Regions from separate parts of the Homo sapiens genome. Here region 1 is linked to region 2. The links come from fine-mapping of genetic effects on gene expression. A gene starts in region 2. The other region holds a variant in brackets. All regions are shown on one strand. Distances are between the middles of the regions. Region 1 has its middle 4.4 kb from the start of TMT1B. Region 2 holds the start of CD63 (CD63 molecule).

The links. PIP is the estimated chance that this variant, and not a neighbour inherited with it, causes the effect.
Region 1: its variant is fine-mapped to the expression of CD63 in whole blood (GTEx, PIP above 0.99).

The regions. Positions count from the first base shown.
Region 1 is chr12:55,674,665-55,680,036 of GRCh38, forward strand. No RefSeq gene overlaps it. Among named protein-coding and RNA genes, the nearest start is that of TMT1B, 4.4 kb to the right of the region's middle. The variant G/A (reference allele first, on the strand shown) is at 2,326.
Region 2 is chr12:55,726,968-55,732,328 of GRCh38, forward strand. CD63 (CD63 molecule) reads right to left here and starts at 2,042. Exons shown (of 8, transcript NM_001780.6): 1 at 1,986-2,042; 2 at 1,309-1,385; 3 at 184-372. The coding sequence starts at 1,374. It overlaps CD63-AS1 (CD63 antisense RNA 1), which reads left to right and starts at 2,127. Exons shown (of 2, transcript NR_183514.1): 1 at 2,127-2,388; 2 at 2,695-3,885. RefSeq lists silencers at 1,439-1,738, 2,009-2,388 and an enhancer at 1,868-2,474.

The sequences.
Region 1 (5,372 bases), 52 kb before region 2:
TGTTCTGCCAACTTTTGTGTATATTCAAAATTCTCCATTATACAAAGTTAGAAATGAGAAAAGAAAAGGAGGAGACAGAGAAGAAATAGAATAAATCCTAGGTTTTTGGTTGAGCAATCAAGAAGCTAATGGTGCCATTCACTGAGATGATGAAGAAGATGGGCAGAGTAAGACAAGAGACTTGGGGAGTACCGTAAGTGTCATTTTGGACATGTTAAGTTTTATATGTCCAGAAGATATGCTGAGGAGGAGGATCAAGTACACAACTGGGTATACAAATTTGAAACTCAAAGGAAGGATCTGCACTAAAGATATAAATGTGTGAATAATTTGCATATACATGGCATTTTAAACCATGAAAATGGATGGGATTTGGTGAAAATTATGTGTCAATGTAGGTTCATCAATTGTAATAAATGTCCACTCTGGTGGGGGATACTGATAATGAGGAAGGCTAGTCATGTGTGAGGACAAAGGGTATGTGGAAAATCTCTGTACTTTCCTCAACTTTTCTATGAAGCTAAAACTGCTCTAAAAAATAAAGTCTATATTAAAAAAAAAAAGATGAGGTTATTTAATGAGAGAATTTAGACAGAGAAAGACCCAAGACTAAACCCAAAGAAACAAAATTTAAAGGTCGAGTAGATGAGAAAGATCTAAAAAAAGAAGTTTCTAAGAAGTAACAGCCACGGGAATGTTATAGAAACAAGAAGACTGTTATGTTAGGACAGCCTAGATGAGAGAATTTTTCAAGAAGAAATAGTAGCCAACTATTTCTGAAGCTGTTGAAAAGTCAGATAAGATGAGAACAGGGAATATTCACTGGACCTGGCATGTGGAAATAATTAATAGGCTTGATAATAATAGTTTCGGGTTTCTTTGTTTTGTTTTGTTTTGTTTTTAGAGACAGGGTCTCTCTCTGTCTCCCAGGCTGGAGTACACTGACCCAGTCATGGTTCACTGTAACCCTGAACTTGCAGGCTCAAGCAATCCCCTTGCCTCTGCCTCCTAAGTAGCTGGGGCTACAGGCGCATGCCACCACACCCGGCTAATTGGCTAATTTTTTTATTTTTTGTAGAGAAAAACAACAGCCTATGTTGCCCAAGCTGGTCTCAAACTCCTGGGCTCAAGCAGTCATTTCCTCTCGGCCTCCCAAAGTACTTGGATTACAGGCACGAGCCACCACGCCCGCCCAAAGTCATAATTCTTGAGTCATCTGCTCGTGTTATCTTGGTTTCCTCACCTTCCATTCACTCTTTCTCCCACTCCAATCCATCACTAATAAAAATTTCTTGGGCTTGGCACAGTAGCTCACGCCTGTAATCCCAGCACTTTGGGAGACCAAGACAGGAGGATGGCTTGAGGCCAGGAGTTCAAGATCAGCCTGGGCAACCCTGAGAGATACCCTGTCTCTACAAAAATTTTTAAAAGTTAGTAGGCATGGTGGTATGCACCTATAGTCCTAGCTACTCAAGAGGCTGAAGCAGGAAGGGCAGCACAACCCCAGGAGTTTGAGGCTGCAGTGAGTCAGAATGGTGCACTCCAGCCTAGGCAACAGAGCAAGATCCTGCCAAAAAAAAAAGACTTTGACATAGATTTGTAAAATGGAGTTTTAGCTAAAGTGACATGTGGTGTCAAGAGGGTCAGTTTATTATTAACCTGAAATATATTAGAGCATATTCATATTTTGAAAGATCCATGGAAAGGCAGAGATTAATGATTTAGGAGAAAGAAAGATAAAATGAAGACAAGAATTCATAGCAGCATTGTTTATAGTACCCCAAAAGTGGAAACAACCCAAATGTCTATCAACTGTTGAATAAATAAACAAAATGTGGCATATCTGTACAATGCAATGCTACTTGGACGTAAAAGGAATGAAGTATTGATACATGCTACAACATGTGTAAACTTTGGAAGCATTATGCTGTGTGAAAAGCCAGTCACATAGGCCACATGTAGTATGATTCCAATTACATGAAATGTCAAGAATAAGTAAATCCATACAGACATAAGTAGAGTAGTGATTGCCTACGGAAAGGAAATTGATGGTACTGGGGTTGGGATGGGGATGGGGGAAATGGGAGTAAGTGGTAAAAGCACAAGTTTCTTTTGGGGTAACGAAAATGTTCTAAAATTGATTGTGGTGGCTGGTTGCACAACTCTGAATATACAGTCACATGTTAAGTCATATGTTGCTTAACAACAGGAATAAGTTCCGAGAAATGCATCGTTAGGTGATTTTACCATTACGGGAACATCATCATAGAGTGTCCTTACACAAGCTTGGATGGTGTAGCCTACTATACAGCTAGGCTATATGGC[G/A]TAACCTATTGCTCCTAGGCTGCAAGCCTGTACAGCATGTTACTGTACTCAATACTATAGGCAATTGTAACACCATGTTAAGTATTTATGTATCTAAACGTGGAAAAGGTGTGGTAAAAAATACAGTATAAAAGATTTAAAAACGGCATACCTATATAGGGCACATATCATGAATGGACTTTGCAGGACAAGAAGTTGCTCTGGGTGAGTCAGTGAGTGACTACACTAAATTTATTTACATTTTTTTTTTCTTTTCTTCAATAATAAACTAGCCTTAGCTTACTGCAACTTTTTTACTTTATAAACTTTTTAATTTTTTTAACTTTGACTCTTGTAATAACACTTAGCTTAAAACATAAATATTCTACAGCTGTACAAAAATATTTTATTTCTTTATATCCTTATTCTATAAGCTTTTTCTATTTTTTAAATTTTTTTAACTTTTTTGTTAAAAGCTAAGACACAAAGACACACATTAGCCTAGGTCTACACAAGGTCAGGATCATCAAGACATCACTACAGGACAGGGATTTTTCAGCTACATAATAATCTTATGGTACCTCCATCATATATGTGCTCTGTCATTGAGCTAAATGTGTTATGCAGCACATGGCTGTACAGTTGACCCTTGAACAACTCAGGACCTAGGGGACTGATACCCCTCACAATTGAAAATCTGTGTATCTGCAGGGTGGGGAACACCACACATTGGGGCCTGTCGTGGGGTGGGGTGGGGGGAAGGATAGCATTAGGAGATATACCTAATGTAAATGACCAGCTAATGGGTGCAGCACACCAACATGGTACATGTATACATATGTAACAAACCTGCACGTTGTGCACATGTACCCTAGAACTTAAAGTGTAATTAAAAAAAGAAAATTTAAAAAAATATATATGTGTGTCTGGCCAGGCATGGTGGCTCACGCCTGCAATCCCAGCACTTTCAGAGGCCGAGGAGGGTGGATCACGAGGTCAGGAGATCGAGACCATCCTCACTAACTCGGTGAAAACCCATCTCTACTAAAAATACAAAAAAAAATTAGCCGGGCGTGGTGGCGGGCGCCTGTAGTTCCAGCTACTCGGGAGGCTGAGACAGGAGAATGGCATGAACCCGGGAGGCAGAGCTTGCAGTGAGCAGAGATCATGCCACTGCACTCCAGCCTGGGTGACAGAGCAAGACTCCGTCTCAAAAAAAAGAAAAATTAGCTGGGCATGTTGGCATATACCTGTGGTGACCACTACTCAGGAGGCTAAGGTGGGAGGATTGCTTGAGCCTGAGAGGTTGAGGCTGCAGTGAGCTGTGATCGCACACTACACTCCAGCCTGAGTGACAGAGCAAGGCTATCTCAAAAATAAAAAATAAAATGAAAATTTCTAGAAAAGGAAATACAGAGGCTCTTAATTATAAGAAACAAAAATTCAACCTCACGCAGAAAAGAGTAAGTAAGCCGGGCACGGCAGCTCATACCTGTAATCCCAGCACTTTGGGAGGCCGAGGCTGGTGGATCACCTGAGGTCAGGAGTTCGAGACCAGCCTGGCCAACATGGTAAAACCCTGTCTCTACTAAAAATACAAAAATTAGCCAAGTGTGGTGGCATGCGCCTGTAATCCCAGCTACTCGGGAGGCTGAGGAGGGAGAATCGCTTGAATCCGGGAGTCGGAGGTTGCAGCAAGCCGAGATAGTGCCACTGCACTTCAGCCTGGGCGACAGAGTGAGACTCTGTCTCAGGAAAAAAAAAAAAAAAAAAGGAAAAGAAAAAGAAAAGAGCAAATAAAAAGCACAGGATAATACTACTTTGCCTCTTTCTGTGTCCATGGAGCAGGCCCAGGAGCAATTACTCCCCAGTGATAATCACATCCAGCATTCAGATCTTGGTTTTTAAATACCATCCTCCTCACAAAAGACCAGTGCTTCTTTGAGAAATAACTAAGTTCGGGGCTGGAGCAGGGGAAATACAAGATGAGCCTGGAACATCTTCTTGTAGCAGAAAGTAAGAAAATGCTCAAAGAGTGATGGAGTTGTGTCAAAAGGAGACAGGAGCCAGCTTGCAGGTGCTCCCCCAGCCAAATCTAGGGCAATTTGAACATCAAAATACACACCCAGGTATTCACCCAAGAGAAATAAAAGCATACGTCCACACAAACCCATGTACACAAACAGTTCATAGTAGCTTTATTTCTAACAGTCAGAAATTGGAAACAACCCAAACGTTTATCAACAAGTGAATGGATAAAAATATATGTGGTATATCCATACAATGGAATACTACTCAGAAATGGAAATGAACTGCGGATGCATGTACAACATGGATGACTCTCCAAATAAACATGCTGAATGAAATAAGCCAGATGCTGAAATCCCATACATTATAGGATTCCATTTACACAAAATTCCAGAAAATGCAAACTATTTGGGAGGCCAAGGTAGGCGGATCACCCGAGGTCAGGAGTTTGAGACCAGCCTGGTCAATATGGTGAAACACCGTCTCTACTAAAAATACAAAAATTAGCCGGGCATGGTGGTGCATGCTTGTAATCCCAGCTACTCAGGAGGCTGAGGCAGGAGAATCACTTGAACCTGGGAGGTGGAGGTTGCAATGAGCCAAGATCAAACAACTGCACTCCAGCCTGGGCCACAGAGTGAGACTCTGCCTGAGAAGAGAAGAGAAGAGAAATTAATCTATACTGACAGAGAGCAGATCAGCGGTTACCTGAAGATGGGGATGAAAGAGGGGCGAATGGATTACAAAGAAACACAAGGAAACTGATATAGTTTGGATGTTTGTCCCCTCCAAATCTCATGTTGAAATGTAATCCTCAATGTCAGAGGTGGGGCCTGGTGGGATGTGTTTGGCTCCTGAGGTCCCAACCCCTCATCAGTGGCTCAGTGCCAACCCCTTGGTGATGAGTGAGTTCTCGCTCTGGCAGTTCACGCAAGGTCTCTCTTGCTCCCTCTCTTGCCATGTGATACACTGCTCCCCTTCGTCTTCCACCATGATTGTAAGCTCCCTGAGACCCTCACCAGAGGCCAAGCAGATACTGG
Region 2 (5,361 bases):
CAGGAGCAAAGGACAGAAGTCAAGTTTGGAGTCTATGCATTACAGGGGCCCGTTTTGGCACAGCCGGTCCCTGGACACTCACAAAGGTCTTCCTCACCCACCCACCTCACCCACCTTCCTGAGCCCGAACCAAGCTGCTCTGGCAGTCCCAGACCGCCCATGTTGGTCCCGCCCCCAACTCACCGTGATCATAAGACAATAGTTCTCCTTGCAGGCCCCGCAGCAGCCCACAAAAGCCACCAGGAAGAGGAAGACACCCACTGCGATGATGACCACTGGCAACAGAGAGCCAGGGGTAGCCCCCTGGATTATGGTCTGACTCAGGACAAGCTGTGCCCCGACACCCACGGCAATCAGTCCCACTGCACAGGCCTAAGAGAAAATCAGGTGAGGATTAGGCCATATCCACAACACAGTGGCCCTCCATGGTGGAGGGCAGGGGGTACACCTAGGACACAGACTTGACCCCATCCGGAAGAGAGATTCTCACACCTCTAGGGAATTTCTTTGGCTGTGGGGTAGGGGGATGACCCATCCTTGCCTGCCCCTACCTCCCCTGATCCCCTCCCGGCTCTTTAATCAGGGACATGACCAAATTCAAAAACCTCCCAGAAAGCCTTGACCTCAAGACACGTATTTCTGACCTAGAATAATGCTTTCTACAGGCCTCCAGGGCTCCCAGCTCAATTCTCTCCCAGAACTGCCCCCTCACTATCCTCCAGTGCACATCCCACGCGCGCATCAGCTGTGACTAAGGTTCCTCTGGCCAGTTAGGCCAGGAGAAGGGAAGAGGAAAAGGGAGCAAGAGTGATGTGTCCCTCCCTAGACAAACAGTAGCCTCTCAAGCCAGGAGCCCAGGGCAGGAGCAAATTGAAGTGGGCAGAGCCCTTCCTCACCCCCAAGCGCTGGGAGGAGGGAAAGGGGGAGAGGGGCTGGACAGGGATGAGAGGGTTGGGGAGGGAGAGAGGGGAGAAGGGAGAGCGAAGGGAAGCCCCATGGCGATAGCATCAGGCGGTTGGCTGGTTGCCCCACTGCCCCATATCACAAGTGGTTGGGTCACCAGACAGGAAGGGCCAGGAGGGATGGGGGTAGGGGTTGCTGCACACCCAGGATGGCCATTCTCGGTGGAAACAAGCCTCAGGTGTCCAGGAAAACTGGAGGAGGGAGTGGCTGCGCTGTCTTTCCCTGGCTTTCTTTCCACATCTGGTCTCCAGCTGCCTTAATTCTCATTCCCTCAGCCCTCACCACTGTGGAGCCAGGTCTCCCCGCACCCTGCCGGCGCGCCCCCCAGGACCCCTCGCCACTCACGCAAAAGGCCAGCAGGAGGACGTAGAGCAAGAACTTCACACATTTCATTCCTCCTTCCACCGCCATGGCTGCCGGGCCTGGGGCAGAGGGGAGGGCGGGGGGATTAAAACTGGCCGAAGGGGGACCTCGGTTTCCGGGCTCCCGGCCGGCCCTCGAGGGCTTCCCTTCACGGCCCCGATTCCCGGCCCCTCCCACCCGGAAACCCGCGGTCGGATCCACGTCTCCCAGCCCCCTCTTTACCCGCAGGAGAGGGGTGGGGGCGACGGCCGCGAAGCCCGGACCCCGCCCCGCCGCCTCTGGGGCCCAGGACAGATCCAAGGGCGCCGGCAGGGGCTTGAGCCTGACGCCGACCCTCGGCCCGCCAGTCTCCGGGCGTCAAACACCCTTTCCCCACCCAACACCCAGCCTGGAGAAACGGTCTTCAGCCCAACCCCGACCCCCGCCCCAGCCCCTTTCCCCTGGGCTCTGACCTCCCCGCCCACCAAAAAAAAAAAAAGTGCAGCCAGCACCCCCGCCACACCCTGCCCGGGCCCAGGGAACTTCGAAGCAAAGTTGCTCCAGGGCGGCTGGAGAGCGCCGGACGAGTCTCCGCGGGCCTGGGGCGAGCCCTGGAGGAAGGGACTGCGGGTGGTCTCTCCCAGCCCGCGCCGAAGTCCGCCGGGTCCCCGCGGCCTCACCTGGGCTTCCCAAGGCTGGCTGCGCGTTCCTCTCCCGCCGCGGCTCCGGGGCTCTCTAGCTGCGCCCCCCGGCTCCCGCCCCGCCTGCCGCGCGGCCCCGCCCCGGGCTCCAGCCACGGTCCCCTCCCCCGCCGAGTGGCCGCCGGCCTCCCTCATGTGACGCGGTAACAGCTGCGGCCTGAGTCACTGGGCCCGGCGCGGGGTGGGCCGAGCCCCCCGCCCGGCCAGGGCCACGTGGCCCCTACCCGGAAGAAGGCGCCCACCCCCGCAAAGGGAAAGCCGCAAGGGCAAGACCTCGGGGCGCCTGGGGCCCCCCTCTGGCGCTATACCTCCGTGCCAACTCGGGGTAGGAGAGCGGGGCGGAGCGCAGCCTGGGTCACTCTGGTTCAGAGAAGCGGACGAGGTGGGTGAGAGTTACCCTCTGAGCGCCGGGGCGGAGAGCTGAGGCCGGGTGACAATGTGGTCTGTGAGGTTTCCCCATCCTACCGTAGGGGATGAGCCAGCTCTCTCCTCTGGCTCCAACTCTGTGCAAGCCCCCTCCCCATCCGACTGTGCAGACAGCTGGGGACTGCCTGGGGTCGGGTGGGGCCAGAACAAACACTTCCAGAAAGTCCCTGGCTCACATCCTGGGTGTCTCCCAACATTCTACAGCATTCTAGAGTGGGGATTTCTGGCCCCCCTCTATTAGCACAGCTTCTCCATTTTCCAGGGATCCTAGTCTGAGAAAAGGGGAGGAAGCCCTTCCCCGAAGCCACGCTACCCAGTCAATCAAGACACGTCCGCGTCGGGTCCCGCCCTCTGGGGGAGGATTGACAAGGTCTGTGCTTCCAGCCTCCCAGACAGCTCCTGCATCCGTCTGTGATAGCGAGGGCTTGGGGGAAGACACGAAGGCAGGAGAGGCTTACATCCTCTGGATTTCCCCGTCTTATCCCAGAAGACAAAGCCAGGTGAGGGCTGGAAGCGGGCTAGGGGGATCAAGCTGCCTCCCTCCCTTGTGTGCCAGGGGTGGTCCCCAGAAGGAGCTGATCTGAACAGGCCGGAGAGTAGGACCGGCCGTCACACCCCCACACCTCCAGCCTCGGCCCCACTCCTTGGGCTCTTAAGGTCCTGCCTCAAGAACCACTTCCTGAGTCTTAGTGTATGTGTGTACACAAAGAATGAAAGAAGTCTCTAGAGCTAAAGGAAGGAGATCCGGGCTGGGCTGAGAAGCATCTTCCAGGATCACGGCCTTCCCGCGGGACACACCAAGCCCATTCCGGATCTTGCTCTTCCTGACCATGGCTGGCAGGCTGTGGAGGAGGAGCGGAGAGCAGAAGAAAGGAGTATTCATCAGGTTCCTTATTGTGCTGCCACTAGATGCCAGGCATGTGCTAGGCTTGGGGGCTGCAAGGAGAGGAAGACAGCGGCCCTGCCCTCTGCTAGCAGGCAGAACCGAGTTCTGGCCACACTGTGAAGAAAGGCAGAAGCCTGCGGTGGCAGCTGGTTAAGCTCAGAGGGAGGGAAAGGGAGAGGAGAATGGATTTCACGGAGCAGAAGGATGTGCTCAAGGTGACCTTGGAGAATAAAGGGGAGAGCTCCAGGGACAGAGAAGCAGTCGACTGTGGAAAAAAAAGGAGCATTTTGTAAAGTACATGGCAGGTTGGGGTTGGCTGGCTCAAAGGGCTTGGGACGGATGTGGTGAGATGGGCTGAAGGTGGTCTGAAGATCAAGATTGAGAGACTAGATACATAACAACCAACTGCAATGTTTGGTCCTTCATTGAATGGTTGAACAAACCAGCTGTGAAAGACATTTTGGGACATACAGACATGGACTGAGAATTAGACATAAGAAAATTATTTTGTTAACTGTTATCATGGTTAACAAAACGGTCATATAATATGATTATGTAGAGAAGTTACTCTAGTTTTTCCTCTTTTTTTTTCTTTATTCTCCTATCAGCCAATGCATTTGTTACAGGAAAGGGGTCCCAATCCAGACCACAAGAGAGGGTTCTTGGATCTCATGCAAGAAAGATTCAGGGCGAGTCGCAGTGCAAAGTATAAGCAAGTTTATTAAGAAAGTAAAGTGGTGAAACAACAGCTGCTCCATAGACAGAGTAGGATGTTCCCCAAAGTAAGAGGAGGGGCTAGGCGCAGTGGCTCACCACACCTGTAATCCCAGCATTTTGGGAGGCCTAGGCAGGTGGATCACCTGAGGTCAGGAGTTCGAGACCAGCCTGGCCAACACGGTGAAACCCCGTCTCTACTAAAAATACAAAAAGTAGCTGGGCACAATGATGTGTGCCTGTAGTCCCAGCTACTCAGGAGGCTGAGGCAGGAGAATCACTTGAACCCAGGAGGCAGAGGTTGCAGTGAGCAGAGATCGTGTTGCTGCATGCCATCCTGGGCAACAAGAGTGAAACTCCGTCTCTCTTTTTTTTTTTTTTTTTTTTGAGACGGAGTCTCGCTCTGTCACCAGGGTGGAGTGCAGTGGTGCCATCTTGGCTCACTGCAACCTCCGCCTCCCGTGTTCAAGTGATTCTCCTGCCTCAGCCTCCCAAGTAGCTGGGACTACAGGCACGCACCACTACGCCCAGCTAATTTTTGTGTTTTTAGTAGAGATGGGGTTTCACCATATTGGCCAGGATGGTCTCCATCTATTGACCTCGTGATCCGCCCCCTCAGCCTTCCAAAGTGCTGGGATTACAGGCGTGAGCCACTGTGCCCGGCAAAACTCTGTCTCAAAAAAAAAAAGTAAGAGGAGGAACACATTCACCCTCGGTATAATGCTTGTATATATGGAGAGATGTGCTCTGCTACAAAAGTTTGTGATAAAGGATTAATTTTCTTAATTACTGTATTTTGTAAGAATCGATATTATCTTTTTTATTATTATTAATTTGTTTCCTTAACCATAAACATCTAGGTTTTTTGTTTTTGTTTTTGTTTTTGAGATGGAGTTTTGCTCTTGTTGCCCAGGCTGGAGTGCAGTGGCACAACTCACCACAACCTCTGCCTCCCAGGTTCAAGAGATTCTCCTGCCTCAGCCTCCTGAGTAGCCGGGATTACAGGCATGCGCCACCATGCCTGGATAATTTTGTATTTTTAGTAGAGCCGATATTGTGCCATTGCACTCCAGCCTGGGCAACAGAGCGAGACTCTGTCTCAAAGAAAAAGAAAGAAAGATGAAAATGTTGTGGAGATGGATGGTGCTGATGGTTGCACAATGTGTATGTACTCAATGTCCCTGAATTTTATGTTATATATATTTTACTACACACATACACACAAAGAATGGCCCACTTCTACAGCCTGGAAAGTTGACACAGAGCTCCATGTGTTTGCTGGGGTGCAGGATAGAGGGGCCTCTTAGTGGGAAGTGGCTGATCTCAGAC